Linked DNA regions of Homo sapiens. The protein of the gene in region 1 interacts with the protein of each later gene in a biochemical or structural test. Each region holds a gene or a part of one and is shown on either strand. Other genes may lie near its edges.

The links. Proteins that work in one complex are often made in the same cells at the same time.
Region 2: the proteins of EHD1 (region 1) and MUL1 form a complex in vitro, tested with the Homo sapiens proteins (one study listed by BioGRID).

The regions. Positions count from the first base shown.
Region 1 is NC_000011.10:64,868,267-64,872,483, reverse strand, and holds part of EHD1 (EH domain-containing protein 1), read left to right. Parts: intron 1-4,217. UniProt on the Homo sapiens protein: ATP- and membrane-binding protein that controls membrane reorganization/tubulation upon ATP hydrolysis. In vitro causes vesiculation of endocytic membranes. Acts in early endocytic membrane fusion and membrane trafficking of recycling endosomes.
Region 2 is NC_000001.11:20,498,948-20,502,049, forward strand, and holds the end of MUL1 (mitochondrial ubiquitin ligase activator of NFKB 1), read right to left. Parts: intron 2,473-3,102; coding exon 1,743-2,472; 3' UTR 501-1,742; downstream 1-500. UniProt on the Homo sapiens protein: Exhibits weak E3 ubiquitin-protein ligase activity. E3 ubiquitin ligases accept ubiquitin from an E2 ubiquitin-conjugating enzyme in the form of a thioester and then directly transfer the ubiquitin to targeted substrates.

The DNA of each region.
Region 1 (4,217 bases):
TTAAGTTACTCTTTTATTTTTTTGAGACAGAGTGTCGCTCTATCGCCCAGGCTGGAGTGCAGTGGCATGATCTCGGTTCACTACAACCTCCTCCTCCCTGGTTCAAGCGATCCTCCCACCTTAGCCTCCTGAGTAGCTGGGATTACAGGTGCATGCCACCACGCCTGGCTAATTTTTATATTTTTAGTAGATATGGGGTTTCGCCATGTTGGCCAGGCTGGTCTTGAACTCCTGACCTCAGGTGATCTGCCCGCTTCGGCCTCTCAAAGCATCATCACAGCCTTGAACTCCTGGGCTCAAGTGATCCTTCCACCTTAGTCTCCCGAGTAGCTGGGCCCACAGGCGCGGGCCATCATGCTCGGCTGGGGTTGTATGTCTTGTGTTGCTTGCCTTGGCCCCTGCCCTCTGAGATGCTCCCTCCCCACCTCCCACTCCCTCTGCTTCCTTTCCCTGGTAGGAAAGAGGCAGGCAGAGGTGTCTACACTGGCTGTCTCTGGGACAAGCACCAAAGTGTATGCTCCATATCAGTGGATCTGCAGACACAGCATGGCGTTTTGATTGGGAGCAAGGGGTGGACGTAGGTGTTGCCTTGTGGTCCCTGCCCTGGAGTTGCCTGTGCAGACAACAGGTTGGAGGAACAAGCCAGCAGGACATGAGGCTGCTGTCAGTGTGCTGCCCTGCTCTGCCTGTGTGGCCTCCCTCTCCCCTCCAGGTGCAAAGTGTGGCCCCTCTGCATCCCTGAGAGGCCAGGCTCCCCTATATCCACAGAAGGTCATCTCTACCCATTATGGGCAGGAAGGAGCCGGTGGCTGAAAGAGAAGCACATCACGCTGATTGGAGGAGGGGTTTCCTGCTGTGAAGTAGCAGAAGATCAAACCGATTTTACTAGACCATTTCTTTTCCTCCATAGCCCTAGAGGCCTTGGTTTAGATGTGTTTTACTAAAAGTTACCTGGTTAGGGTTTGAATGATGGTGTTTTATTGTCAGGAGAAAGACCATCGCTCAGTACCTCTTGGAGGTGCTGGGTGTAAACTCCAGGATGAGCCCCGCTAGGTGTACACAGGAGGAGTGGATTTCTGTTTCCTGGAGGCCCCGCCCGTCAGTCATGGAAAGGCCCGTGTGGCCTGTCCAGCGGAGGAGGTCGGAGTGGAGCAGTGCGTTCCCGGCAGGGCTGGCCACCTGCTACTGCCTTTGCTGGTGGCGTGGAAAGCAGGTGTTTCCCTCTCGGAAAGATGGGGCCGGCAGAGCACGCACCAGGGCCCCAGCACAACACGCCTCCCCTGGCCTGCCAGCCCGTTCCCTGGAAACATGTCCTTGTGGAGGCCGTGGATGGACATTGGGGTTGCTAATTGCATTTACTTCCATTTCCCACCCCGTCTGGCCCCGCCTGGCCCCTCCTGACTTTTTTTCCCCTTTCCCCATGGTCCTAATGTGTGCAGGAAACACGGTCTGAAAAGATAAGGTGGGCTGGTGCAGGCCCAAAGCAGTCAGGATGCAGCCAGGCTCTGTCAGGGACCCCTGAGGACTGCCTCAGGGACGAGAAGGGGGCCGGGTTGGGGTCTCTTGGGCTGCCTTTGCCTGTGTGCTAATCTGAGTGACTTTAAAGATACCGTTCTCCTGTGTCAGCAGAGAAAGGTGGCCTCTGGGGGCTGCGTTCATTCTTGAGTGCTGCCTGTGTGACTGATAAGGGCATTCCAAAGGGCAGCTGGGTCCGGCAGGGGTGGTGCCCTTGGCTCCAGGGGCTGCCGACCAGTTGCGTGGTCCCGGCAGTGCCTCATGCCGAGTCATCCCCCGGCGGGGCCTCTGTGGGCAGCCCGGCCAGTTCGTTCGTTCCCCACCATGGTCACTAGGCAACTGTGAACTAAGCGGGAGTTTTTGTGTCTCAATCTCCCCATGAAAGCTGTATCAGCATCAGCAGGGTAGTGTTTCTACTTGCAGTAGCAGATCAGAGACCTGGCCAGCTTTGTGTCTGACTTTCTGCTGGCCACTGCCACATCAGTGAGTTCCATTGAGTTATCACAGCAGCTGCATCTAGGAGGAAGCTCCTGCCTTTCAGAGGAGGAAGCAGAGGCTTAGGAAAGTTAAGTAATTGGCCTAAGATGACAGGCAGGCCAGCAAGTGTCGGCGCTAGGATTTGAACCCAGGTAGGGGCTGTGCTCCTACTGCGGCGGAGCTGAGAAGGGTGCCTTGGCATGAAGGCTGTGGGCGAAGGAGTGCCGGGAGCTTGGGTCAGACAGACCTTTGCCCCTGTTGGGTCATTACTGTGGACACACAGTAATGTGTGTCCCTCCTGAGACACACAGAGGCCACCCTCTGTTTCTCTCCCACCCAAGGTTAGACTCCAGTCCTGAAATGGACCTGAGGTCTGGGGCTTTGAACAGCAGTGCTGGTATTGTGTTCCCTGTTCCCAGCCATAAATGATCCCTTGGGGTCTCCAGGGAGCCTGGTGGCCTGGGCTCTCGTTTGCCCTCTGGTGGTCTGCAGGCTCCCTCTAAGCCTGGGAGCTGTCCTGATCCTTAGTGGTTGGATGGGGCCTCCCTGCCCACACTCCCACCTGTGTGTCCTGAGCCCTCCGGCCCAGAGGCAGGCCTGCGCCGTGGGCCGCCCCCACTTCCTGCCGACACCTCCTGAGATGGAGATGCCGCTGCCAGCAGCACCCCCAGGCTGAGGTTTCACCAGGGTGCTCCGAAGACCATCAAATGCTCCCAGGGGCTGCCCAAAGGCCATGAGCCAGGCCAGGTGCTGTGTCCCTCTTGGATTCAGCATCCATAGCACAAGTAGATCAGAAGGTTCAAGTCCCACGTTAGTACTTGGGGAGCTGGGTGGCTCTAGGGAGTTGCTGTAGTCCCTGGGAGCTGCATCAGTCCATCAGGAAACACCATAGCCTCTCCAGTTATTGTAGATTACCAGAATTTACATGTTAAGCTCTTGCCCTAGTGCCTGGTGCACAGTTAAGTGTTCAAGTGTCAGCTGGTTCATAGTCAAGAGATTGAAAAGCCCAGGGCTTTCCAGACGGTGATCTGAGTAACATCCTGGGGAGTATCCTCGGGGAAGTGCTGACTCAGCCGGGGTTTCCCGTTGGGTTCCAGGCCCTCCTTTGCTCCCAGCTCCAGGCCTCCCAAAACCCTCTGCTCGCCCCACCTGGCTGTGGTCTCCCTCTGTGGCCCAGCAGGCCAGGATGCCAAGACAGCTTTTGGCCTCAGCCTCTGCTGGGGGCGTGCAGGCTCTGCCACAGAGGAGGCGTACCAGGCGCTGCCCGCGCTCAGCACCTGTTCCCCAGGCTGCGCACTGGCGGTGGGCTGGGGAGCAGCTGGCCGAGCGCCTGCAAACATTCCGTTTATATTTGGGGGATGAGGCATTCTTCATGCATTTGAAGTCCTTGCCTACACACCCATCAGAATCTGAGCTTCTTAAGCCCAAAATACAAATCCTGCGAGTAAATAAGAGCAAACATTTACTCCTGCTCGCAGTGTGCCAGGCTCACTCCATCCTCCCGCGGCCCTCCAAGCTGGAAACCTACTATCTTCGTGTTACAGACTGAGAAGCTGGGAACCGAGGCTCTGAGAGGTCAGAGACCTGCTGGGTCACACAGCTCGTTGTTGAGTAGAAGGTTCAGGATGGAAATGTGGGCCTGATTCCAGAGTTCCTCTGCCCCCTCCCGCCCCTCTTTTGTTGCTTCTGTCTGATTTGCTGGGGTCTACGTTGTGTGTAGTGAAGTCCACCCTCCTCAGGTGCCCTGCTGTACAAAGCATTCCTGGGCTGCCGCCACCATGACAGAGAGTATTCCCATCGCCTGAAAGTTCCCGTGCCCCTCATAGTCACTCCTGGTCCCAGGCAGCCCACTGACCTTTGTCTCTAACTTTTGCCTTTTCCGGAATGTCACCTAAATGGAATCATACAGGATGAAGCCTTTTGCTTCCACCTTCACTTAGCAGGATGCTTCTGAGCTGCATCTGTGTGTTTGAGAGCCCCTGTGGCCCGCTCCTCTTTGTTGGGGGTCCTTGTCCCATCATAGGGATGCACCATCCGTTGTCATCCATTCACCTGTTGGGGCGCTTGGGTTGTTCCACCCGGGGCAGTTTTGAGTCAAGTACGTGGTTCGTGTGGGCGTGTGCTGCTGCTGCTCTCAGGTAAATGCTGAGGAACGGAGGCGCCTCTGTGCTCCACTGGAAAACCCTTCCGGAGGAGCTTCAGCCTGAGCAAGCCCAGGAACGAGG
Region 2 (3,102 bases), on another chromosome or scaffold:
CAGTGAATGTACCCTCTGGGCCTACTTCCTCACCTGTACAGCACAGACACCGGGACTCGGCCTGCAGGGGTTTTGTGAGGATGAACTCACTCTGAAATGAGTTTGAAACAGCACACGGCACAGTACCTCATACACAGTATTGCTAAATGCTCATTTCCTCTCTGCTGTCCCCCAGCACCCCATCCCCATCCCATTCTCCCAGCAGGTGAAATCTCACTGCCCTGATTTGTAGGCTGTCGGGACAGACTTCAAAGATGGTCAGCAAGGCCAGATATGACCCACGGGTGGGCTGTCCAGATTCCTCCCCAGGGGGCAGGCATCCCGGCCGGCCTCTGCATCACCCCATCTGGGGGAGCCCCAAACCACTATAGCCGAGGAAAAGAACACAGAGGCCTCAAACTCCCCCACCTTTCACTCCATTGTGGCAGGGATTCAATCCCATCCTGGGGACACTTAGGCTTAGCCATTTAACTCCTGTTAACAAAGCAACAGGCTAGCACTTGGTTGCAACATGTTTAATTTCTGCTGTTCACACTGGACACTGCATCATACTAGTGTCGGCCCCTGAGGGCACCCCTTCCTCGCCTGCACAAAGGAGGACGAGAGATGAACATTCAGAGGCAGAAAAGGGCAATAAAAAAAGAGCTGTGTATGTGACCTCCAACTACTCAGAGGTGGGGGAAAACAGCCCCATCTGTCTTGCACTAAAAGGCTCACCAAGGGCAGGTGAGGGGCAAATGGTAATACTGGGAGGGGGTAACACAAGGAGAAGCGACATGAGTACACCAAGATGTCAAAGCTGCGACGGGCTGGATGAGGGAGCCCCAAGAGGGCATATGCTCAGGGTGCCAGCCGGCTGCTTTTCCTTGTGACAGCCTTGCAAGGAAGCTGTGAGGCCAGGACACTAGGCCAGTGGCATCCACACTGCGTCCTTCAGGAGGCGAGGCCTCTGCGCCTCATTCTCCAGGAGGGAAAACCAGGGACCACCCCGAGCTCTCCCAAGTGGCAGGAGTTCAAATCAGGGCCAGTGGCGAAACCAGGAGGCCTGCCTGACCAACTGCCCTTCACATGATCTCTCTTCAATCTGTTGCCCGGGGCCCCGACCATCTGGGCAGAAGCGGATGTGCTGACTTCACTTTCTTTTGTCCTCTACACACACGTGCAGGCGTTAAGGAGGCAAGCAGGTGAGGGGAAAGGAACACAAGTTGACCTGCCCAGCCTGACAATTCTGAAGAAAGACTGTTTCCCGGGGCATGAGGAAAAAGAAGAAAAGCTGCGGCAGAGTCTCTTCGGAGGCAGCACCCAAGGCATCCGTTGTACTCGGGGCCCAGCCTTTCCTCCCCTCTGAGTCCTCCACCAAGTCCACAGCAAGCAACGATTCACCAGAAAAAAACAGAAGACACAGGAACAGAAGAGCTGCTGATCACTGGCTTTGGTGCTTAAGTGATGAGGCATTTTCAGTCACACTCGCACTGATCTGGCTCCTGGGAGGAGACGCCACGGCATCCTCCCAGGGTGAGGCTCTGATGAGGCTGCACATGGACAGGGTCCCCTCTCAGGTGGGAAAGGCAGCATCCTGCCATTGGAGGCATGGGTCTGGAGAGTTTCTACCCAATTCCTCCCTCAATCATACCTGGAGGTGACAGCTACCCCCACCACTGCTCCTCCAAAGGCCTCGAGATAAAAATCCCTGAAAAGGGGGCAGGGGTGCTTCCAGGTCAAGCTGTGCGGCTTCCAAACTATTAGCTGTTGTACAGGGGTATCACCCGGGTGATCGCCTGTCTGCAGATAGGGCACTTCTTGGGCTCTGGCAAGGCGCGGTAGCACTCGGTGCAGGAACAAACGTGCCCACACTCCAGAAAGACGCAGGACTTGAAGCTGCTCAGACACACTACACAGGCGCTCTTCAGACTCTCCCTGTCCTCAGGCTTGGCTCGGCTCAGCAGCTGGGCCTCATGCTCCTGGAACTCCTCCTGCATCTGCTTGAGGCGCAGGCGCTCCTGCCGCTGCAGATACTGCTTCCGGAGAATGAAGAAGAGGGTGGCACATGTGGCAAAGCCAAAAACCAGCGCCAGCACCTTCCAGAGCCTGACGCTCGACTCCTGCCTCTGCAGCAGGCTGTCGAAGTCCTGGCTGCTTAGATAGTACTGCATGCCTTGTTTGGGCGGCTGCAGGCGGACAGAGTTGTTGTCCAGGACCAGTTCGCCAACCCCTGTGAGGGTGGCCCCCACCTTCAGCATCTCCTCGGTCTCTTGGATGCCTTTGGGCCGCTCACCGCTGATGTAGTGGCCGATGACATCGGTGAAGGACTGAATCGAGGGGTGGAACTTCTCATACACAGTCTCTAGACCCAGATCCACTGAGTCCAGGGGCTTCAGCACTCGCACAGCCACATCCACGCCATCCTCGTGGGGCACCAGGTCAAAGGGCACTGTGTTGGTCCTCTGATGAATGATCTTTGAGCAATCATTCCTAGAAGAATAAGAGAACTAAAGATACAGGGTAGCAAACAGCAAACACCCAGGCAGAACTGGAGATCAACTAAATGTGGAGGACAGCATATGGTCTGAAGTAACTGGAAGAAGACAGTAAGATCACTATCTCCAGTTGCCTCCTAACAAGGAGGCTCCATTTGTAGGTCCTGGGGCGATATCAGTGGGCAACAAATAACCGCCACAGACTATCATTTCCCTTTCCACTGTAAAACAAACATCTAAAACAAAACTCACTAGGACCAGTTGGAAAACTGATATTTCATATGATGGCACAAAAGCATTTTAGGAAATACTGAAATCACTGATTCAGTGGTTCTCAAACTTCAGTGTGCCTAACAACAGATTCCAGGTCCCTGATCCTGGAAATTCTGGTTGGATAAGTCACCAGGGACTGACTTATCCACTTCAGGGACTGAAGGGAGCTCAGAAATCTGCATTTCAACAAGATGCCTCGGTGATTCCGACATAGGAGGCCCACAGGCTACACACAAGAATATGACCTGCATTAAGAGACTGGGCTTCAACCTGTCTCAGGAGAAGCTGAAGTCACGGCAACAGCACCCAGGACCCCAGCATTTGAATAGACCAACTGCAAGGGTTTTGGCCA